Linked DNA regions of Homo sapiens. The protein of the gene in region 1 purifies or fractionates together with the protein of each later gene. This does not show direct contact. Each region holds a gene or a part of one and is shown in the gene's direction. Other genes may lie near its edges. The genes, in order: TRPC4AP, VTI1A, KDM4D, KLC1, RBBP6, RNMT and SMCHD1.

Region 1 (3,500 bases):
GTGGCGCAATCTCGGTTCACTGCATCCTCCGTCTCCCGGATTCAAGCAATTCTGCCTCAGCCTCCTGAGTAGCTGGGATTACAGTCGTGTGCCACCACACCTGGCTACTTTTTGTATTTTTAGTAGAGATGGGGTTTCACCATGTCGGTCAGGCTGGTCTCCAACTCCTGACGTCATGATCCCCCTGCCTTGTCCTCCCAAAGTGCTGGGATTACAGGTGTGAGCCACTGCGCCTAGCCAAAATTTTTTCATTGTAGTAAACAAATATATAATATAGGCCAGGTACATTGGCTCATGTGTGTAATCCCAGCACTTTGGGAGACCAAGATGGGATGATCACCTGAGCCAGTTTGAGTCAAGCCTGGGCAGTGTGGTGGAGCCCCAGCTCTACTACAAAAAAAAAAAAAAAAAACATTAACCAGGTGTGGAAATGCATGCCTGTAGTCCCAGCTGCTCAGGAACCCGAGGTGGGAAGATCGCTTGAGCCTGGCAAGTCAAGGCTGCAGTGAGCCATGATCACACCATTACACTGCAGCCTGGGCAACAGAATGAGACCCTGCCTCAAACTATATACATATATAAATATATATATGTAAACATAAAATTTACCATCTTAACCATTTATAAGTGTATAGGTCAGGCCCAGTGTGGTGGCTTACACCTGTAATCCCAACACTTTGGGAAGCTGAGGTGAGCGGATTGTTTGAGCCCAGGAGTTTGAGACCAGCCTGGGCAACATGGTGAAACCCTGTATCTTAAAAAAAAAAGGTGTATAGTTAAGTAATGTGAAGTATATTCCCATTGTTGTGAAACAGATTTCCAGAACTTTTTCATCTTGCAAATCTGAAACTACCATTGAACAACTTCCCATTTCTCCCTCCCAGTCCTTGGTAACCATTCTTCTCCTTTCTGTTTTTGTGAGTTTGACTACTTTAGATAACCCCAGTATAGTAATACAGTATTTGTCTTTTTGTGACTGGCTTATTTTACTTAACATAATGTCCTCAAGGATCATCTGTGGTATAGCATGTGATGGAATTTCCTTGGAAAAAAAAATCAGATTTTAAAGTAAGGTGGACCTGAATTGAATCCTAGCAGGGTGACCAAGATTAAGTTATTTAACCTCTCTTAACTTCAGTTTCCTTATTTCTAAAGAGGTGATGATAACATCTATCCCATAAAGTTGTTAGGAGGATTAAGTGAAATAATATGTTTTAAAAGCGTAGCCAGTGTGGCATATAGGAATAGTTGTTTAGTAAATAGTTGCTCTCAGCTAGTAGTTAATTAGACTGGGCTTCCTGAAGAGACTGTGTCTTATTTTTCATTGTATCTGCAGAGCCTGAAACCTTGCCAGCCATTTGATATTCAGGAAATTGCTTAAATTGAAATACTGTGTCCTCAGTCTAATTTCTGTCTGTACTTGCCAAGCAATCTCATGGCTTTAAAGAGTTCCAGAGTCAGATTACCTAGGTTTGAAACCTAGCTCTGGTATTTACTTACTATGTGTCTTTAGGCAAGTTATTTAATCTGTTTATGCCTCAGTTTATTTATTTGTAAAGTAAGTATCATAGGACCTGACCTTCCAAGGTTGTGGTGAGGACCAAGTGAGTTGTACATATAAAGCACTTAAAATAGTGACTGAAACATACTTTCTCAGCTATAAGTACATAGCTTACTGCTATAAAGATTAGCTTGTATTGTTATTAATAACTGCTCTATACGCTGACGGATCCTAAGTTTCTGTTTCCATTCGTGTTTCTCCTTTTAGCTCTGGATGGGTAGGTATATCCAATTGCCTTCTAGCATTTCCACTTTGATGTCTAATGGGCATCTCAAACTTAGTATGTCGAAAGCCAAAATCCTCTCCCTTTTCCATCAGACCTGATCTTCTCCATCTCCCTAAATGGGGCATAAGGGAAGCCTGAGTCATGACTACTGGCCACATAATTTGTAATGGGTCAATTCTACTTGGATTTTAGTTTGCTTTATTTTCTTCCCTTCGTTTTGTTCTGCCCTCTGTCAAGGCAATAAAATATGCTGGGGTGATACTTTGGAGTTTACTGAGCCTTTTCATATTCATCAGCACATTTGATGCTTAATGCAAATCAGATCTTATAAATCCTTTGCTTAAAACTCTCCAGCCTCATCTCATTGCAGTTGATAGAATCAATTCTGGATTCCTTACCATGGGCGTACAAGGCCCCAAATGATCAGTACGAGTTGAAGGAAAGGATAGACTGAGTAAACGCTGGGCTCTAGGATAGTGCAGCTCACATTACAGGTCATGACCCGCCATCCCTGGATGCCCTTCAGTTTGGCAATCTGGTGACAGACTGGGTTGTGGGATGCTGTTATATTTCCCACATGGCAGTCGTTGCTTCCTTTATGATTATTGGCATATCTAAATGCCCCTGAGTGTTCCTTACTTTATATTTTTTCTTTAGATTCACTGACTTTTTTTTTTTTTTTGAGATGGAGTCTCGCTCTGTTGCCCAGGCTGGAGGGCAATGGTGCAATCTCAGCTCACTGCAAGCTCCGCCTCCCAGGTTCATGCCATTCTCCTGCCTCAGCCTCCCGAGTAGCTGGGACTACAGGTGCCCGCCACCACGCCTGGCTAATTTTTTTTTTTTTTTTGTATTTTTAGTAGAGACGGGGTTTCACCGTGTTAGCCAGGATGGTCTCGATCTCCTGACCTCATGATCCGCCCACCTCGGCCTCCCAAGGTGCTGGGATTACAGGTGTGAGCCACTGCGCCTGGCTGACTTCTTTTTTTTGTGAGATGGAGTCTCGTGCTGTTGCCCAGGCTGGAGTGCAGTGCACAGTCTCGGCTCACTGCAACCTCCGCTTCCCGGGTTCAAGCGATTCCCCTGCCTCAGCCTCCTGAGTAGCTGGGACTATAGGCATGTGCCACCATGCCCGGCTACTTTTTGTATTTTTAGTAAAGACAGGGTTTCACCATGCTGGCTAGGCTGGTCTCAAACTCTTGATCTCTTGATCCACCCACCTCAGCCTCCCAAAGTGCTGGGATTACAGATGTGAGTCGCCGTGCCCAGCCAGATTCACTAACTTTTAAAAAAAATTTCATTAGGCACTACTTGTTTTAGCCTCATTCTAACCATTAGTATTTATGAAACCTAGGCATTTAAGTCAAACAAATCTTACCTGGCTTTTCAAAGGTAATTTGATACTGAAAAACTCCTGATTAGGATAAAGTCTTATTCATATATATATACACACACACACACACACACACACACACACACACACACACACACACACACATATATACACACACACACATATATATACACATATATATATACACACACATACACACACACACACACACACACACACACACACACACACACACACATATGCCATTCATTTCAATGGGAAGTTTTCGTATTCACAAGCCCTTAAATTTGCTCCTAATTTTACTGAATCATACCCCATTAAAGGACACAAAAGTATTCAGTGGTTAACATGTATTGTCAGAA
Region 2 (2,515 bases), on another chromosome or scaffold:
TGAAAAGCAAACCTGTTCTCTTCATCAAAAATGCTAACCACCTGTGCCCGTGGATCAATATCACCTGGATGTAGTGCTTGATATTTTTCCCAACTCAGAAGAAAACCATTATGGTTTAGAGAGGAAATGCAGAATGGCAGAATCCACCAGAGAAATTGCACTTATCGAAACAGGCCAAGGCCTGCATGTGTTCGGATAAATCATTTAGTATTGTGTAAATAAAGCTGCAGCCTTTACTTCGGAGGGATGGTGTGGGATTTTGGCCGAGGGAAGCAGGACAGAGAAGGAGCAGGAAGCTATGCTAATTTTCCTGTCAGCTTAAGGGATCCGTCTCAGCAAGAATCTTGTATTCTGATAACGGAATGCTGTACGTGCTGACCACATCTAAGAACCATTAAAAAGCAAGGAAACAAACAAACAACCCTTTTCTCATTCCGACACACGAATAGTCATCGAGTATTACACCAGCCCCTCTGGTGGCTTCCTTCAAAACTGTTGATCTTAGCTAAAGTGTATAACCAGTTACCAGCTGCACTTCGCACGGCCATCCCGTCCACAATGCAGCAGACTCTTCCCAAGGCCACCTAGCAAGCAAGGTTGATCGGATCATCTAAACTGGCCGCCTCCTGAATATTTCACTGAATCCTGGCGTTCATGTTGAAGCAGACAAAATGAGAAAGGAGGAGGGCATTGCTCACCTCTCAATAGCTTTTTTCGTTCAAGTTCTATGTCTTTATCAGCTCTTGCCTGTGATTTTACCCCAATTCAACCTTGGGAGTGGGAAGAATATGAACAGATAACCCTTGGCCTAACAGCTCCATCAAACCTCCTTGAGAGCAACTACCTAGGCCAGGCTAGTGAGTGCTTTGTGAGGAAGCTGGTCAGAAGGTTCCCTCAACTCCTTCCTGGTCCTCCTGGACACTGCAGAAAAGACTTAGGGGATCCCCAGCAGAGGCCAATTGCTCTCCTTCCTTCCCTGCCCCACCAGGAAAGGAATAACGTCCACAGACTTGAAGCAGATAGTGAAGTAGATCTGTGAGAGGTTCTAGGTACTTAGTGTGTAGACTTTGACGAATATTTCTCAAGTTGGGAGCCCTTGTTAAAAATGATGTTTAAGGGAGTGGTTGGGGGGAAGATGAAGGCATGGAGGAGGAAGAAGAGAAGGAAGCCCTTGCCATATAAAATTCATGCAGACTAAACAGTTTCCCTGACAGAATAAATAAAGTGGATGCTACCCCACTCCAGAATCAAAAGCAATTTAATTAAAGTCTCTTAAGTTGTAAAGAGTTTTAAATGATCCGTGTTGAAGGCGAATGCCTGCAAATGCAGTGGGTCTGACGTCAGCTGCCGGGCCTGGGCTGGGAGGCCATTTGCTATTCTGTTTAAGGCAGGCTGGATTGTCTTATTTTGGAACCAGCTTGGTGGGGGGTTTGCTTTGCTACTGCTTCTGAGCCCTGAGCTTCAAAGGCTGAAATTAATGGTGAACAAAATTGTGCGGCTCTGGCCATCCCATGCGGGGCAAGCCCATTGAGGGTTATCATTAAGTAAAGAAATAAAGAGGGGGAAAAAAGCCTGCCTGTTCCAAAAACCTCATCAGATAATGACCTCAGTGATTGGGTTTTCATTACCAAACAGCATCCAGAGATTATCAACCCATAGAAGAAGGGAGGGGAAAAAAAAGAAAGAAAGGAAAAGCAACTGTCTTTCTCTCCCTCTCTTTCTCCTTTTTTTTTGCACATCTTTTCTTTAAAACTGTCAGATCATTTCAGTATTTCAAATCCGAGGAAAACAGCCTGCCTGCTGCTGTATTTGAAGTTGTAATGGTGTCAAAAAGTCACGACTGACTGACAGCCGTCAGTCCCAGAGGGGCTCATTAAATCATAAAAACTTGACAAGGAAATAATTGCGCATTGCCAGCAACTTGGCGCCTGTTTAGACGTTTTTATTTTCTTTCATTATTAGTCCCCACCATTACGTTCATTAACAAATTGCATTAAACAACTGTTAAGGGCTAATGATTTGTTTATCGCTTTTTTTTATTATTATTATTTAAACATTAGCTGTGTCATGTGGTACCCCAAGCAGCCTCTTGCCATCATCTGACTGAATATTTTTCCACTCCGAGCTCTGGGTACTGTTGGAATATGAAATAGATTATTCATTACTCTCCTCTTTGCCACTGATTTGGTTTCATGTAGCGTCTTCCACAGAGAAAGATGAAAACTTGTCAAAAATAGGTTATATCTTATTCGAAGGGGCAACAATAGCAGCAGGTACAGGCACACTTTAATATTTAATTAAGGTTGATGTTAACCCCTTTAAATGACTTTAGCTGTAAGTTGTATTCAAATGCAGAAGAGAAAAATAATTGTTCTTAATTTGCAACCTGTTCAGCAGGCGTTCTTCATGGAGTGAGCTGGAAATTTAGGGCAGAATTTTTAAATAATGAAATTTCCCATCGTAAATATTAATAGCAGTTTGTCTACGTAGTGGAGAATTAACTAGGAGTGATGAT
Region 3 (3,500 bases), on another chromosome or scaffold:
GAATGTCCCTACTTGGGAAGTCATAATGATATTCTCAGGTATTATCTTCTAAAGGTTTCATAGCTGCACATGAAATTCATTTTTGTGCGTGGCATGCTGGAGAAGGGGCCTTGAAATCCGATGGAGCAGATATTCTTACCTTGTCCCACTTTTATAAGAGTGGCTTTGCTATTCTTGGCCCTTTGGACTTTACTATAAAATTCAGGAGCCAATTGTCAAGTTCCACAAAAATACTTTTGGAATTTTAATTGTGATAATATTTAATTTACAGATTAAGAAAACATTCTTAAAAATGTAATGACATTTTTACAATACTAAGTCTTCAAATCTATTAACAGGTTATATTTTTCCATTTGTTTAGGATGTCTTTAGTTTATATTAATATGCTTCTCTAAGTACATTCATATTGTTGTCTTCATAGAAATTTTGCAAATTTTTGTTAGCATTAGTCTTGTTACTTAATGCTTAATGCTATTATAAATGGCGTCTTCCTTAAATTTTGGTTGTCTCATTGTTGCTGGTGTGTAGAAATATCATTGATTTTTATATGTAGCTATTTTAAATTCAGAGAACTTGCTAAGCTCTCTTATTAATTCAAAGGGTCTATTCAGAGATCTTTCAGATTTTGTCACATGTACAATCATGTCATCTGCCAATAGTGACAGCTTTGTTTCTTCCTTTTCTGTTTTCCTTCTTTTTTCCTTGCCTTCTTATGTTGGTTAGGACTTCCAAGATAATGTTGAATAAAAATGCTGATAGCAAGCATCCTTGTCTTTTTCCTGATCTGCAAGGGAAAACGTATAACTTTCATTATTAAGTATGATTTGGCTGAAGGTTTTGGATAGATGCACTTCATTAAGATTTTTGCCTACTATTTTTAATTTGCTGAAAGAATGATGAATTGATGAATTTTATCAAATACTTTCTCTGCATCTAATGAGATTCTCTTTAGTTTGTTAATATGTGCTATTACACTATTATTTTTTAAAGTTTCATCCTTTCATTACTGGAATAAACCCATCTAGGTCATGATGTATATATTGCTGGAATCAATTTGCTCAGATTTCAGTTAGGATTTTTCCATCTATGTTCATAAGCGAGATTGACCTATTTTCTTTTCTCATAGTATCCTTGTTGGGGATTCGTACCATAAAATGAATTGGGAAGTATTCTTTCTTTTTCTATTCTCTGAGAAAATTTATCTAAGATTGGAATATCTTTCTTGAATGTTGACTAAAATTTCTTGGTGTAGCCATCTGGGCCTCGAGTATATTTTCTGGGAAGAGTTTTACCTACTGCGTCAGTGTCCTTGAGGGTTATGGATATATTTATTGTTCTGTTTATTCTTTTGTCAGTATCACTGTTATATTTTTCTAAAAATGTATTTACTTCATTGAAATGTTAAACTGTATTGGCATAAAGTTGTTTATACTTCTTTGTTGTCTCTTTTATGTCTGCAGCATCTGTAGTGATGACTTCTTTATCTTTGTTGATATTGGTTATTTGTGCCTTCTATTTTTGTTCTTCCTCATTTTCACCAGTCTTTTAAATTTTATTAGACTTTTTTAAAAAAGCCCAACTTTTGGTTTTGTTCATCATATTTTATATTGGCTTTTTATTTCATCAGTTTCTGGTCTCTTATTATTTCTCTTCTTTTTCTTTCTTTGCTGTTACTTTTTTCTGACTTCCTCAGATGGGTGCTTAGCTCATTTAGTTTTTTTAACCTTTTTCCTTTTCTTAAATATTTATTTAAATTTATAAATTTCCCTTTTAATGCTATTTACCTGCATCCTACAAGATTTGAAATGTAGTATTTTCATTTAGTTCAAAATATTTTCTAATTTCCATTTTTTATTTTCTCATTAAAAATTTATTTAGAAATATACTTTTTATTTTATAAATTTGGGAATTTTTTAGTTATCATTTTGATATTACTAACTTCATTGTTTGTGGTCAAATAACATATTCTGACTGTTCTCAACCGTTTGACATTTGTTAAAGCTTGTTTTATGGCCACAGTTATGGTTAATTTTGTAAATTTTTTATAGAACTTGGAAAAATATATATTCTGCAGCTCGGCAGAACTGAATTTTATATGACTATTGCTTTTTAACTGCTTGATCAGTAGGGTCCAGGTTTATGCCTGTCATCCTTGGGTCTCTGTTATTCTCAAAAGTGTCTCAGCTTAGATGGTAAATGATAGGATATAATTAATGTCAAAGTTTAGAGCCACTCTTATTAAAATCTTAGATGAGTATAGAATTTCTACCAACTCAGTCAACATTCAGCATTTTGCTAGAGATCATATCTAGTTACTTAAGACTTCCCTATTTCTAAAAAAAAAAAAAAAAGAGACATGACTATTAAAAAAAGAAGAGATATAATTTTTATGATTTTTTCCTAGAAAATATTATCTACGTGGAAAATTCTAGAATTAATGGCCAAGCTAATAGTACTAATAGGAAATAAGAGGTACAAGGTTTGAAAAGGGATGTAAGATCAATAAATAATAAGAAAACTTAATAGAAAAAAATTTCCATGTACAGTACACTCAAAAAATTATAAAGTTCCTAAGGTTTTATCTAAGAAAACAGATTCATTATCTTTTTGATGCAAATCTGAAGCTTCATTGATATACATGCAACAAGATCTGAATAAATGTATAAATATACCAGTTAATTGGTGGGAATGATCAATGCAGGAGCTATGAAAATACACCTCTAATTTTCCTTTAATTTCAATGCATTCCCAATTTAAATTAACAGTATTTGACAGAACCTGACAGATTTATTCTAAAATGAATACTGAAGTTTTACTCTATAAATATACCCAAGATAATTTTGAAAAAAGTTGAATAAGTACATGGAGACTTGCCTTACCAATTATCCTAAGTATAAAGCTTTAGTAATTAAAACAATCTAACATTGGCATAGAAATGTACAAATAAATAAATGGACCAGATGAAGAGTTTAGAAAGACATCTATCCTTACATTGTAACTTAGCATATGTGAGAAAAGGATTCCAACTGAATGGGGAAAATGGTGGCAAACAACTGGATTTCTTAAAAAAAAAAAAAAGTTCTGTTTCTTACAATAACACACAGTATTCTAAATAGGCAAAACAAATAAAAGTGAAAAGCAAAGAAAACAATGACAAGAAAATATGATCTTTTTGACCCCCAAAGAATACATGGATTACTTAAATAGTACACAAAGGCACAAATCATAATGGAAAAGATCAATAAATTTGACTACATTTAATTTTTTCAAATATCAAAAAAACATAAACAGTAAATGGAGGTGGTGTGCTGAGATAAGTTATTTGCAACAATACAATAGACATAAAATTATCCCAAACATTTAAAGAACTTTTAAAAATCACTAGAAAAAGAAAGCAATTTAACTGGAAAAAATCGGCAAAAGGTATAACTGGTAATTCAGAAAACCGAAACCCACAAAAGAAATAAATCAGTGAAAAATTACTTGACTTCACCAGTAAA
Region 4 (3,417 bases), on another chromosome or scaffold:
GTCAGTCTGTGGCCACCATCTTCGGATGAGAAAGTGGAGCCGCTGCCCTGGAAGAGCTGTGTCTGAACCAGGCTCCCAGCTGTGCCACGGCCCAGGCAGACGCGTTTTAAAGGCCCGAGCCCCGTGTGTCGGGGCTTCTCAGGCAGGGCTGTTGTGCAGCCGCCACCGTGTCAGTGGGACTGGGTCCCAGGTGTCCCTCGCACCCCTTCGGCACTGATCGTGTAGGAACAGGAGGAGGGGGGCAGGTGGGGGGCAGAGAGCACCCGCAGGGTCCGGGCTGGGCAGCCGAGGGCAGCCTCTTCCTCGCGGAGCCGGTCAGCCAGCAGTCTCACCAGGAGCTGGTTAGCCCAGGTTATGCCAAGGGCTGGGGAAACACGTTCGTCCCAGAACCTGAGAAACAGGAAGCAGGCAAGCTGGCGCTCAGGCTTGGTGGCCCCGCCCACTTCGGCCCAGCTGTGCCCCTGGCACCTGCACAGAGGTGCACACACCACATGGCTGCACTCACCCCAGCGGCCCGTGTGCTGCGCCCTGCTCCTCCATGGCCTCTGTCACCTGGAAGAGCACAGTCCAGGTCAGCTGCAACGGCTGAGGGTCTTCTCGATGGTTAGGCACAGGCTGCTACCCGCAGGAGCCGGAGGCCACCTCACTGCCACCCGCCCCACCTCCAGACCGGCTCTGCTTCCGCATCCTGGCTAAAAATACGAGCTCAGGGGTGCAACCCTGCCTTGGTGCTCACCTGGTTGATGCACAGCACAGGGCTCTGGAAGGCACTGCTCAGCTCACGCAGCGTGGCCCCCAGGGACTGCAGATGCCTGGCCCTGGGGGCGGAGGCCTGGCTGTCAAATTCACAGCGGAATGGGGCTGCCACCGAGTCGATGACCACCAGGCGAGCCATGCCCCGAGACAGCAGTACGGGGACCTTCTTATTCACACACTCCAACAAGGTGTCCTGTGGGGACAGCTGTCATTGTCTATGCTGGTCAGCAAGTCCCCGCCCCAGGTGACCAGACCCCGTTTGGACTGTCACTCGACCGTCTGAAAACCTTCCTACCCACCTGGGGCTCACAGTGCCCATACTCTGTAGTCCCCATACTCTGAGCCCAATTCTGTATTTTTCTCAAAGAGGCCCCAACTATAGAAGCTTCAGGCTCACACAACTGGTTCCCTTGGCCCCATGTCCTTCCTCTGGCCCCCCCAGGCAGTCACCCCTTGGCTGTGCCAACACCGTCCTCTGTAGAGGTGTCCTTTGCGCAGGCTCCTGAGTCCTTGCGGGGGTCTGCTCTCCTTCTGCCATGGTTTCACCCTCTCCCCCTCACAGGTCAGCAGCAACCAGCCCCCTCCTTCAGTGGCCCCGCACCAGGTACTCAGACCACCCAAACCTGGCCACAGTGCCACCAAAGCCAGCCCGTGGTGGCCATGACCTCTTCAGACGCTCAGCAAGGCAGGGGCCTGATGCCCTTCAGGCGTTACTCAGGCGAGTCAGGCCTGGCCTGCCTCTGCCAAGGCGTGGGGCACTCTGGGAGACCACCTGGGGGTCAGGATGGGGCTGTAGGTTGAGACACCCTCAAGGCCAGTGCCTCCCGTGCATCCAGGCCTTAGCCCTGTGCTCTGAGCTGGCCTGGCCTGGCCAAGGGGTGGAAACAGCCCTGTGCCCACCAGCTCCCAGGAGAGCTTCCAGGGGAGGACCCCCCCAGTGAAGGCAGGTGTCCTCGGCCTCCCTCTGGGTGCTGCCGTGGCCTGTGGGTGCCAGAGCCATTGGCATGGCTGGCCTGGCCTCTGACCGCACAGCTTGGTGAGCCATGGTGATGGGGGAGGGTGACACAGCTGCTCCTGGCACCAAGCAGTGTAGTTCAGGCCCCACGGGCCTTGCCAGCAGCTCTGGCCAGATGGAGGCTGCTAAGGGGCCCCTAGGCTGTCCCTCAAGTCCAAGGTCTGCAGCCACACGCTGGTGTCACGCCCGGAGCTCTGAAGACGCCTGAGGGCCGCCTGCACGCCCTGAGTGAAACTCGTCTGTGCTTCATCTCCAGGGCGTCTCTGGCCGAGCCTCTTTTTGTGGAAAACGACAGCAGCAGCAGTGGCCTGGAAGACGCCACCGCTAACGTGAGTCCCACGGCCTGCAGCCCCAGGAAGCAGGCAGCTGGGCCAGGGAGGGACTTTGCACATGCAGGGACTGGGGGGAGCTGGGGATGGGCAAGTGGTGACTGCTGCTAGCTGCCAGGCTGGGCCTCCAAGAGGGGCTTGGCTCAGGGTCCCCATCCTCATGCAAGCCCAAGGGCCACAGAGTGGGGGGGTGGGAATGGCACCAGGCTCTGCTTATGCAAGAGAAGGCTCTGTGTCCACACCCCTGGCTTCCCCCGTGCCAGACGCAGGCCTTTGGTGCTCCAGGGAGCAGAGACCAAAGACGCACCAGTCCCCCATGACCCCTCGGCCCCAGGGAGGCTCACAACCAGCAACACCCTCTTCTCTAGGCAGACTTGGGGTGGGGGTTCCCCAGAGAGCTGTTTCCAGAACAGAACTTAGTAACACTGTCAGGTTTTGGCGGCCCAGCCCTGACCTTCTATCTTCTCTTGCAGTGACCCCGACCTGGCCCCGCTCCAGGATGGGACTGCCGAGTGTGGCCCGGAGCTGGCCCGGGACAGCCAGGGCGGCAGGGAGGGCCCCTGGCCGGGAGCCGCAGCGCTCACTCATTTCTCCTGCGTCTGTGTGCATAGGACATGATACTAATAACCACACGGCTGGCGTGACCTTGGGGCTGGGGCTGGGCCTAAGCTGGTGCCCTGGTGCGGCGTGGTCTCTCCCAGGAGACCTGGGGCATGAGCTGGGCCCACGGCTCCCTTCCCATGTGTAACTTCCTCACGTTGTGTGCGATAACGTATTTTATTGTACATTTTTTTAAATTAAAAGTTTATATGCCTTATGCTTTACTTGAAAGTTTTTATAAGACCTCTTAGAAGTGGGGGAAGGCTGGCGGGCGCGGTGGCTCACGCCTGTAATCCCAGCACTTTGGGAGGCCGAGGTGGGCGGATCACCAGGTCAGGAGATCGAGACCATCCTGGCTAACATGGTGAAACCCCGTCTCTATTAAAGATACAAAGAATTAGCTGGGCGTGTTGGTGGGCGCCTGTAGTCCCACCTACTCTGGAGGCTAAGGCAAGAGAATGGCGTGAACCCGGGAGGTGGAGCTTGCAGTGAGCTGAGATTGCACCACTGTACTCCAGCCTGGGCGACAGAGCGAGACTGTCTTAAAAAAAAAAAAGAGAAGTGGGGGAAGGCCCACCCAGGAGCTGCTCTGCCAGGCCACAGCCATGTCTAGGGTGGGCTGGACATGGCAGCCGCTCCCCCTGCACAGGGTGGAATTTCCTTACTTGCCTTTGGTCAGGGGTTTACTCCCAAACGTCCCATCTTTTCTTCTGCGTC
Region 5 (3,500 bases), on another chromosome or scaffold:
TGGATAGAAGAGATAAGCTTACTTGTCTCAGATGACTTTAGTTTGAAGAAGTAATATCTTGGAATTTATTTTTCCAGAAGTATAAACCGTGGGCGACACCACAGCGAAAGATCACAGAGGACTCAAGGCCCGTCACTACCAGCAACTCCAGTCTTTGTACCTGTTCCACCACCTCCTTTGTATCCGCCTCCTCCCCATACACTTCCTCTCCCTCCGGGTGTTCCTCCTCCACAGTTTTCTCCTCAGTTTCCTCCTGGCCAGCCACCACCCGCTGGGTATAGTGTCCCTCCTCCAGGGTTTCCTCCAGCTCCTGCCAATTTATCAACACCTTGGGTATCATCAGGAGTGCAGACAGCTCATTCAAATACCATCCCAACAACACAAGCACCACCTTTGTCCAGGGAAGAATTCTATAGAGAGCAGCGACGACTAAAAGAAGAGTATGTATTCTAATTTGAAATTATTATACACTTTTTTCATTTTCTGATAATAACATTAAATAGGTGTCTGGAAACGTTTTCCAGTGTTTCCAGTTAGTATGAGAAATTCACCTAAAATTTAAACCAAAGCCATACAAGCAACTTCTCAGGGATTCCTAGTTTATAGTTTTAAAGTGGAAAACTAATGGCAATTTCATTCATTTCATTCATGATCTAATTACATTTGTCTTGTTAGTTTTCTTAAATGGTTTTTGTTAACTTTCACTCTTTAACTTTATTTTACTAGGGAAAAGAAAAAGTCCAAGCTAGATGAGTTTACAAATGATTTTGCTAAGGAATTGATGGAATACAAAAAGATTCAAAAGGAGCGTAGGCGCTCATTTTCCAGGTTAGTGTTTTGCAAGCCTTCACAACAGAATTACAAACGGGACTTTGAATATCCAGGGATTAGCTATGGATATAAAGAACATTGCACTTAGGAATTTTTCTGATTCGGTCTAGGTGTATAGAAGTGAAGATGTAGCTTATTTCCCAATATCTGTTCATTGAAATAATGTCTCAGTGTAAATTTTATTGTGTAGAACTAACAGTTGTGGGGATTAAATTGCCCTTGTCCCTTAAAGTTATTCATAGTATCAAATAATTGGGAAATGTTTTTGGAAGGAAAGAAATAGGGGAATAGCCAAAAAACAGTTCCCAGGACCCTTTTACCATAAGGCTACAGCTTCTTGCTGGAACATTAACCTGCGTAATTATGAAGTAGTAGTAGAATACAGATCGCTTTATTGATAGAAAAAGTGAATTATAAAAATTCCCTGGAAGTTTGTTTAAAAGACTTTATTTTTTAGCCTTACACTTGAAATGTGGTTTCTTTTAAAACTAGGCTGTTGGCCAGTATAGGACAAAAAACAGACTCCTACTTCAATATTCAGATAGGAAGTGAAATTTAAAATTAATTGACATTTTGTTTAATGTTAGTTAGCTCATATAACTCACGGTACATTAATGCACTTCACTCTAATTGTTAAGACTTCACTTTTGTTTTGTAACAAGTGATTGCTCCGATTTGTGTACTTTATTCCATTCCAGTAGAGGTCACTGTGCCTCTTTAATCATCTAAGATGAAATTTGATATAAAGATAGATGAAACCGTGAGGAAAGAATGCTAGAATCTGAGAGTCTGTGTTTTATTTTGTATGTATTTCTCAACTATCAACTATTGTTTTGTTTTGTTTTTAGGTCTAAATCTCCCTATAGTGGTTCTTCGTATTCAAGAAGTTCATATACTTATTCTAAATCAAGATCTGGTTCAACACGTTCACGCTCTTATTCTCGATCATTCAGCCGCTCACATTCTCGTTCCTATTCACGGTCACCTCCATACCCCAGAAGAGGCAGAGGCAAGAGCCGCAATTACCGTTCACGGTCTAGATCTCATGGATATCATCGATCTAGGTCAAGGTCACCCCCTTACAGACGCTATCATTCACGATCAAGATCTCCTCAAGCGTTTAGGGGACAGTCTCCTAATAAACGTAATGTACCTCAAGGGGAAACAGAACGTGAATATTTTAATAGATACAGAGAAGTTCCACCACCATATGACATGAAAGCATATTATGGGAGAAGTGTTGACTTTAGAGACCCATTTGAAAAAGAACGCTACCGAGAATGGGAGAGAAAATATAGAGAGTGGTATGAAAAATATTATAAAGGTTATGCTGCTGGAGCACAGCCTAGACCCTCAGCAAATAGAGAGAACTTTTCTCCAGAGAGATTTTTGCCACTTAACATCAGGAATTCTCCCTTCACAAGAGGCCGCAGAGAAGACTATGTTGGTGGGCAAAGTCATAGAAGTCGAAACATAGGTAGCAACTATCCAGAAAAGCTTTCAGCAAGAGATGGTCACAATCAGAAGGATAATACAAAGTCAAAAGAGAAGGAGAGTGAAAACGCTCCAGGAGATGGTAAAGGAAATAAGCATAAGAAACACAGAAAAAGAAGAAAAGGGGAGGAAAGTGAGGGTTTTCTGAACCCAGAGTTATTAGAGACTTCTAGGAAATCAAGAGAACCTACAGGTGTTGAAGAAAATAAAACAGACTCATTGTTTGTTCTCCCAAGTAGAGATGATGCCACACCTGTTAGAGATGAACCAATGGATGCAGAATCAATCACTTTTAAATCAGTGTCTGAAAAAGACAAGAGAGAAAGGGATAAACCAAAAGCAAAGGGTGATAAAACCAAACGGAAGAATGATGGATCTGCTGTGTCCAAAAAAGAAAATATTGTAAAACCTGCTAAAGGACCCCAAGAAAAAGTAGATGGAGAACGTGAGAGATCTCCTCGATCTGAACCTCCAATTAAAAAAGCCAAAGAGGAGACTCCGAAGACTGACAATACTAAATCATCATCTTCCTCTCAGAAGGATGAAAAAATCACTGGAACCCCCAGAAAAGCTCACTCTAAATCAGCAAAAGAACACCAAGAAACAAAACCAGTCAAAGAGGAAAAAGTGAAGAAGGACTATTCCAAAGATGTCAAATCAGAAAAGCTAACAACTAAGGAAGAAAAGGCCAAGAAGCCTAATGAGAAAAACAAACCACTTGATAATAAGGGAGAAAAAAGAAAAAGAAAAACTGAAGAAAAAGGCGTAGATAAAGATTTTGAGTCTTCTTCAATGAAAATCTCGAAACTAGAAGTGACTGAAATAGTGAAACCATCACCAAAGCGCAAAATGGAACCTGATACTGAAAAAATGGATAGGACCCCTGAAAAGGACAAAATTTCTTTAAGTGCGCCAGCCAAAAAAATCAAACTCAACAGAGAAACTGGGAAGAAAATTGGAAGTACAGAAAATATATCAAACACAAAAGAACCCTCTGAAAAATTGGAGTCAACATCTAGCAAAGTTAAACAAGAAAAAGTCAAAGGAAAGGTCAGACGAAAAGTGACTGGAACTGAAGGATCCAGCTCAACTCTGGTGGATTACACCAGGTAGCTGAGTGTAGGGGGTGGGTGTGGAACTTTGTTGGGAGAAGGATTTTCTTCAGTTTTATCCAT
Region 6 (3,500 bases), on another chromosome or scaffold:
ACTGATAATTTCAAAAGTCCTGTTTCAAAGTGATCATTAAAACCTGAAAAAAGGCTGGGCACTGTGGCTCACACCAGTACTCTCAGTATTTTGGGATGCCGAGACAGACAGATTCCTCGAGCCCAGGAGTTGAGACCGGTCTGGGCAACATGGCAAATGCTTGTCTCTACCAAAAATACAAAAAAATTAGCCAGTCATGGTGGCATGTGCCTGTAGTCCAGCTACTCAGGAGGCTGAGGTGGGAGGATTCCTTGAGCCTGAGAAGTCAAGGCTGCAGTGAGCTGTGATTACATCACTGCACTCCAGTCTGGGCAACACAGCGAGACTCTCAAAAAAAAATCTGAAAACTTTGAGTTTTTCTGACATTTTAGGTTGTGTTTGTGTTTACACACACACACAAATACGTATATCTCTACATATGTCTAATCCTCCTTTCTTGCACAGCTGTGTAGTGCCAAGAGAAGATACACTGTACACAGGGTCTTCCTCAGCATAAACTTGAGTGAGCATGTGTAAACATTCTCATTGCCTATTTGTTACTAAGTAGCCATCTCCATTTGAAGTGTTTACCTCAGATTTCTACTGGAATTTTTGGCTTATAGAATACTTGCATGTCTTTTTTTTATTTGGCCACTCTGATGTGACAGTGAAGGCATAATAATACTAGAACATTCAATGAAACATCCATGAGCAGGATGTGTTAGAGGTGTGCATGATAGGGGACAAATGTGGTGCAAAGATATTCTGAAGTGAGGTTCCTGTGTTCAGAAGAGAAGCCAGAAGCACAGCAAATCTGTGAAGGCCTGTGGTTCTTCAGCAGTGGGTGTTGAGGAAGTCAGGTTGCAGAGCCTCATTGTTACTGTAGGAATCCCCTTACATGGTTGTTGGTGATGTTGAGGCACAAGTGGTCATTAAGGACAATCCATTTGATAAACATTATTGATTTACGTGAAGTTCTGTGAAAGGTAAAGTAAAATAAAGATGTTAAATCTCTACCTTCTAGAAGTCTACACTGTAATGGAAGGAACAGGCACAAATAAACACTACTAGGCAAATTTTTAAGTGCTAATGATACTGTAGTGGGGCACAAAGGTGAAAGAGAGCTTAATGAAAACTAAACTAATGACATCTGGGATGTAGTAATATTGATATTACTGAGTGTTGAACATGTGCAGGTGCGTGTAACGTTTTTAATCCTTGTAATAACTCACATGTTGTAACTCATTTAATCCTCACAATGACTTTATGAGTAGAGTATTATATCTCCTTTCACAGATGAGAAGACTAACAACTTAGCTAAGATCACAGAGCTAACCTGTGGTTAGCTTACCTAAGTGATCTGTCATTTTAACTATGGTTTCATGGAAGCCTGGCAAAAGGAAAATCTAGTAAGACTTCCTGAGTTGGATAGAGAAGAAGAGGAAAGGAGTCAAGCAAGACCAGTATTTTGAGGCTATTTGTCTTTGAACATTGGTACTATTACTAGAAATCGGACTGGAGGATGTTATACACATACGATCATGCTTGACACACTGGTGAGCATGTGCATAAACTATGGATTTTATTACTTTTTCCCTGCAGTGGAGACTGGTTGCCTGTCTTAGACATCCTGCTGGTCCCAAAGTAGAGTGTAAATTTTGATCACGAGTCATCATGATGGCGGTACTGGCTGTGGCTTAGAACTGTATTTTTATATTATTAAGTGTGGACTTTAGTCATCATGTACAAATGAAAAATTAGATGGCCCCAGACAATTGGAAGAGATGGGCTGGACATGCGAAGAGAGCAGTGGCCAAATTGCACCTCGGGTGTAGCACCCCAGGATTGTTTGGCTGTTTGATGAATTGCTCTGTTCTAAGCTAGAGGGCTTCGTGGGTTGAGCGTATTTTGCATGCCATCACGAGTCTAAAAGGCCCAGGCTACATTTTAGACTTCTACTGGTCTGATCATTAAGCTATCACCAGAGCTGCTGCTCCTCTAGAAGATGGCTTTAAATGAGAAAGGAGAGAATTGCTATTGATTTATTTCTGGAAGTGGAAGTGGTTCACGATTTGATTTTTTTAAATCCCAATTGAAATGCCTGCATAGAAGGCATTTTATACAATAAGTGGGACTTTTTAGGAGTTTCAAGTTAGAAAGAAAGTTGCTATTATGTATTGAAAATCAGACTCTAGCATGTTAGTGGTTTCAAATGACCCTAAATGAGGACAGGACAGGACTGAGGGGTTGTTTGCAATTGCTATGGGTGTGTGGGGGGTGGGATTTGGCAGGGCTGGGCTGCACAAAGGTCACACAGAGTGGGGGACAGCATGAGTGATACTGGCCAGCTGTGAGTGCTGACATGCTGTGCACGCTGATGTGTTGCAAGTGCTGGGGACTGCTTTGTCTCCTTACCTTCTGGCAAGAACCACAGAATTGATGAACACCCTGCCTGTTTTCTGTCCTATCGCTGTGCTACTAGCCACATTTCATTTCAACTAAAAGAAATTGGAAACCGGTAAATAAGGTGACCAAAGTAGTATTTTGGAAAAACTGCTATGGTGTTCCTGTACAAGTTGGGTTGGAAGAGCAAGAAGCTGGAGTCTTGGGAGGCCATCAGGCAGTTAGCTGTGTTCATCTACCCTCCCTTCAAAAGAAGTCATCTCAAGGAGTGAGGCCTCCAGCTTAGATGGACTTGATCTTGACTCACTGTTGAGTATCCTAGCACATGCCCCAAACATCCTTGTGATGTTTGCAGGATTTGTCACCTTTGCAGGTATTTTCTTGCCCTAAAATCTATTGGTATTTTATTAGAAGATATACAGGCATACCTTGGAGATACTGCAAGTTCAGTTCTAGACCACCACAATAAAGCAAGTCACTCAGATTTTTTGGTTTCCCAGTGCATATAAAAGTTATGTTTACTGTAGTCTGTTAAGTGTGTAGTAGTGTTGTGTCTGAAAACCATGTACATACCTTAATTTAAAAATACTTCATTGGTAAAAAAATGCTGATGATCATCTGAACCTTCAGTGAATCTGAATCTTTTCTGCTTGGTGAAGGGTCTTTCCTCCATGGCGGAAATACTCTTGATGGATGGTGGTTGCCGAAGATTGGTGTGGCTGTGGCAGTTAAGACAATGAAGTTTGCCTCATTGATTGACCATTCTTTCACAGAAGATTTCTCTGTAGCATGCAGTGCTGTTTGATAGCGTTTTACCCACTGTAGAACTTATTTCTAAATTGGAGTCACTCCTCTGAAACCCTACTGGTCTTTATCAACTAAGTTTTTGTAATATTAATATTCGAAATCCTTGTCATTTCAACAATGTTCCCAATGTGTTTACCAGAAGTAGATTCTATCTCAAGCTCATCCATAAGAAGCAGCTCTTCATTTGTTCAAGTTTGATCATGAGATTGCAGCAATTCAGTCACATCTGCAGGCTCCACTTCTAATTCTGGTTCTCTTGTTGTTGCCATCCCGTCTGCAGCTACTTCCTCCACTGATGTGTTGAACCCCTT
Region 7 (3,500 bases), on another chromosome or scaffold:
AATTAATAATCTGAGATTACATGGTCAACAAGCAGTGAAACTGGGATTGGAATTTAGGTCAATTTGATTCCAAAGCTTATGTATACATATACATATATATGTGTGTGTGTATATATATGTATATGTATATATACATATATATACACACATACACACATATATACACATATATACGTGTATACGCATATATACATATATACACATATATACACATATATATACACACACATATATATATTTTTTACACTACTCCACACTATTTATTAGAACCATCACTTTTGTCCTTAGGGGAAGAGACAAAATAATATACTAAAGTTTTTGTTAAAATGTAAATTAAACCAATAAATGTTTGTAGTGTCAGGCAGTATTATGGGTGATCCTAAACTGTTACTTATTTATTTATTTTTTTTGAGACGGAGTCTCGCTCTGTTGCCCGGGCTGGAGTGCAGTGGTGCCATCTTGGCTTACTGCAACCTCTGCCACCCAGGTTCAAGTGATTCTCCTGCCTCGGCCTCTTGAGTAGCTGGGATTACAGGTGCCTGCCACCACGCCTGGCTAATTTTAATACTTTTAGTAGAGATGGGGTTTTGCCATGTTGGCCAGGCTGATCTTGAACTCCTGACCTCAGGTGGTCCACCTGCCTTGGCCTCCCAAAGTGCTGGGAATACAGGCATGAGCCACCACGCCCAGCTCTAAATTGTTATTTGAATAAAGTTCACCTCATGGAAAAGGAGAGGGAAGAAATGGAAAGGACAAATCTGCAAGAAGCCCTTAGACCTCTGATAAGCAGCTGTTGACTCACCTGAGCCCTTGTGGCCTTGCAGAATCAACGATTAGAAGATGACTCATTTGGTTAGTTCTAAAATATGCCCAGATGTTAAGTCCCATGTGTGCATATCCCCCCACCACCAATTTGAAGAAATTGTCTACATTTTCCTTTGTGTGGCTCCAATGTTTTTTGTTGTGCGGCTATTCTAGGTGTTTTGTATTTTAATATAAGATGTGCTCATCAATTTCTACAATAAACTTGAGATTTTGAAAAAAAAAAAAAAAAAAAGCAGAAAACTATGGCTTAGCAAGTGCCATAGTAAGGTAACGAAATATAATGGAGCCACATTAAAAGCTGACTAGTTTGCAGAGTTTCAGAGCAGTGCTAATTAAGCTGTGTGCTTTCTGACTAATCCATGGATGAAAATTACCTGTTGTTCAGAGATAGTGAAAAAATAATTTTAAAAATAAAATTAACTGATCATTTTGGTAGGTAATCATTTTATGCACTGCAAGTCAGTTAGTCCTTAAATATTTAAGAGAAGTTGGGGACGGCATAGTGGCTTACACCTGTAATCCCAACACTTCGGGAGGCCAAGGCGGGCGGATCACCTGAGGTCAGGAGTTAGAGATCAGCTTGGCCAACATGGTGAAACCCCGTCTCTACTAAAAATACAAATATTAGCTGGATCTGGTGGCGGGTGCCTGTAATCCCAGCTACTCGAGAGGCTGAGGCAGGGAGAATTACTTGAACCCGGGAGTCGGAAGTTGCAGCGAGCTGAGAACGCACCGCTGCACTCTAGCCTGGGTGGCAGAGCGAGACTCTTGTCTCAAAAAACAAACAAACAATAATAAAATAAAATACTTAGAAAAATTGTGAATTCAAGAAATAATTTTTATAGATGAAGCAGGGAAAACAAAAAGATAGTTTATGTGTCTTAATTAAATAATAATAAATTTATAGATTAAAAATCCATGGTTTTTTTTTTTTTTTTTTTGATGGGAGTTTCACTCTTGTCACCCAGGCTGGAGTGCAGTGGCGCAATCTTGGCTCACTGCAACCTCCGCCTCCCAAGTTCCAGCGATTCTCCTGCTTCAGCCTTCCAAATAGCTGGGATTACAGGCACCAGCCGTCATGCCCGGCTAATTTTTGTATTTTTAGTAGAGATGGGATTTTACCATGTTGGCCAGGGTGGTCTGGAACTCCTGACCTCAGGTGATCGATCTACCCACCTCGGCCTCCAAAAGTGCTGGGATTACAGGCATGCGCCACCATGCCCCCTGGAAAATCCATGGATATTTAATATGGATGAAAAATCCATGGATATTTCATATGGATTTTTGATGTGGATTAAAAACCATGGATTTTTAATATGGATTAATTTTAAAGTTTATTGCAGCACTATTTACAATAGTAAAGACGTGGGACCAACACAAATGCCTATTGATGATCAACTGGATAAAGATAATGTGGCACATATACACCATGGAATACTATGCAGCCATAAAAAAGAATGAGATCATGTCCTTTGCAGGGACGTGGATGAAGCTGGAAGCCATCATTCTCAGCAAACTAACACAGGAACAGAAAACCAAACACTGCATGTTCTCACTCATAAGTGGGAGTTGAACAATGAGAACACATGAACATAGGGCGGGGAACATCACACACAGGGACCTGTTGTAGGGTAAGAGGCAAGGAGAGGGAGAGAATTAGGACAAATACCTAATGCATGTGGGGCTTAAATCCTAGATGACAGGTTGATAGGTGTGGCAAACCACCATGGCACATGTATATCTATGTAACAAACCTGCATGTTCTGCACATGTATCCAGGAACTTAAAAAAAAAAAAAGATAGTTTGTGTGTCTTAATTGAATAATAGTAGATTTATAGATTAAAAATCTATGGGTTTTTAATATGGATTAGAAATCTGTGGGTTTTTAATATGGATTAGAAATCTGTGGGTTTTTAATATGGATTAGAAATCTGTGGGTTTTTAATATGGATTAAAAAACATCTGTGGGTTTTTAATATGGATTAAACATCTGTGGGTTTTTAATATGGATTAAACATCTGGGTTTTTAATATGGATTAAACATCTGTGGGTTTTTAATATGGGTTAAAAATCAAAAGAAAATGAACTATTTGCTCCAGTGCAGGAAAATACAGGCAATACTGGATACAATTAGATGGTCAGGAGCGATAACCCGGTTGCCATTGTTTGAAGAAGAGAATAAGGTGCTAGCATTCCTATCCGTAGATAATTTGACAGCTAGGAAATAGGGGGAGTCTTCTATGTAGTTAGTGAAGGCTAAATGAACTATTATATGCAGTTATCGTAGAAGAGTACTCAAAAAAATCTGTAAAAAATAAAGAAAGGCCGGGCGCGGTGGCTCACGCCTGTAATCCCAGCACTTTGGGAGGCCGAGGCGGGTGGATCATGAGGTCAGGAGATCGAGACCATCCTGGCTAACAAGGTGAAACCCCCGTCTCTACTAAAAAAATACAAAAAATTAGCCGGGCGCGGTGGCAGGCGCCTGTAGTCCCAGCTACTCGGGAGGCTGAGGCAGGAGAATGGCGTGAACCCGGGAAGCGGAGCTTGCAGTGAGCCGAGATTGCGCCACTGCAGTCCGCAGTCCGGCCTGGGCGACAGAGCGAGACTCCGTCTCAAAAAAAAAAAAATAAAATAAATAAATAAATAAATAAAGAAAGAAAGAAAGAAAGAAAGA

What was found.
Region 2: the proteins of TRPC4AP (region 1) and VTI1A purify together in Homo sapiens (co-immunoprecipitation; 2 studies listed by BioGRID and IntAct, with this or other methods). This does not show direct contact.
Region 3: the proteins of TRPC4AP (region 1) and KDM4D purify together in Homo sapiens (affinity purification with mass spectrometry; 2 studies listed by BioGRID and IntAct, with this or other methods). This does not show direct contact.
Region 4: the proteins of TRPC4AP (region 1) and KLC1 purify together in Homo sapiens (affinity purification with mass spectrometry; 2 studies listed by BioGRID and IntAct, with this or other methods). This does not show direct contact.
Region 5: the proteins of TRPC4AP (region 1) and RBBP6 purify together in Homo sapiens (co-immunoprecipitation; 3 studies listed by BioGRID and IntAct, with this or other methods). This does not show direct contact.
Region 6: the proteins of TRPC4AP (region 1) and RNMT purify together in Homo sapiens (affinity purification with mass spectrometry; 2 studies listed by BioGRID and IntAct, with this or other methods). This does not show direct contact.
Region 7: the proteins of TRPC4AP (region 1) and SMCHD1 purify together in Homo sapiens (co-immunoprecipitation; 3 studies listed by BioGRID and IntAct, with this or other methods). This does not show direct contact.

The regions. Positions count from the first base shown.
Region 1 is NC_000020.11:35,086,308-35,089,807, reverse strand, and holds part of TRPC4AP (short transient receptor potential channel 4-associated protein), read left to right. Parts: intron 1-3,500. UniProt on the Homo sapiens protein: Substrate-recognition component of a DCX (DDB1-CUL4-X-box) E3 ubiquitin-protein ligase complex required for cell cycle control.
Region 2 is NC_000010.11:112,816,730-112,819,244, forward strand, and holds the end of VTI1A (vesicle transport through interaction with t-SNAREs homolog 1A), read left to right. Parts: 3' UTR 1-2,015; downstream 2,016-2,515. UniProt on the Homo sapiens protein: V-SNARE that mediates vesicle transport pathways through interactions with t-SNAREs on the target membrane. These interactions are proposed to mediate aspects of the specificity of vesicle trafficking and to promote fusion of the lipid bilayers.
Region 3 is NC_000011.10:94,980,209-94,983,708, forward strand, and holds part of KDM4D (lysine-specific demethylase 4D), read left to right. Parts: intron 1-3,500. UniProt on the Homo sapiens protein: Histone demethylase that specifically demethylates 'Lys-9' of histone H3, thereby playing a central role in histone code. Does not demethylate histone H3 'Lys-4', H3 'Lys-27', H3 'Lys-36' nor H4 'Lys-20'.
Region 4 is NC_000014.9:103,698,628-103,702,044, forward strand, and holds the end of KLC1 (kinesin light chain 1), read left to right. Parts: exon of another isoform or gene 1-170; coding exon of another isoform or gene 171-390; intron 391-505; coding exon of another isoform or gene 506-552; intron 553-736; coding exon of another isoform or gene 737-949; intron 950-2,027; coding exon 2,028-2,099; coding exon of another isoform or gene 2,100-2,100; intron 2,101-2,573; coding exon of another isoform or gene 2,574-2,576; 3' UTR 2,577-2,917; downstream 2,918-3,417. Other genes in the region: DNA repair protein XRCC3, read right to left, coding at 171-390, 506-552, 737-949. UniProt on the Homo sapiens protein: Kinesin is a microtubule-associated force-producing protein that may play a role in organelle transport. The light chain may function in coupling of cargo to the heavy chain or in the modulation of its ATPase activity.
Region 5 is NC_000016.10:24,567,066-24,570,565, forward strand, and holds part of RBBP6 (E3 ubiquitin-protein ligase RBBP6), read left to right. Parts: intron 1-77; coding exon 78-440; intron 441-726; coding exon 727-828; intron 829-1,679; coding exon 1,680-3,434; intron 3,435-3,500. UniProt on the Homo sapiens protein: E3 ubiquitin-protein ligase which promotes ubiquitination of YBX1, leading to its degradation by the proteasome.
Region 6 is NC_000018.10:13,754,173-13,757,672, forward strand, and holds part of RNMT (mRNA cap guanine-N(7) methyltransferase), read left to right. Parts: intron 1-3,041; coding exon of another isoform or gene 3,042-3,187; exon of another isoform or gene 3,188-3,500. UniProt on the Homo sapiens protein: Catalytic subunit of the mRNA-capping methyltransferase RNMT:RAMAC complex that methylates the N7 position of the added guanosine to the 5'-cap structure of mRNAs. Binds RNA containing 5'-terminal GpppC.
Region 7 is NC_000018.10:2,658,726-2,662,225, forward strand, and holds part of SMCHD1 (structural maintenance of chromosomes flexible hinge domain-containing protein 1), read left to right. Parts: intron 1-3,500. UniProt on the Homo sapiens protein: Non-canonical member of the structural maintenance of chromosomes (SMC) protein family that plays a key role in epigenetic silencing by regulating chromatin architecture.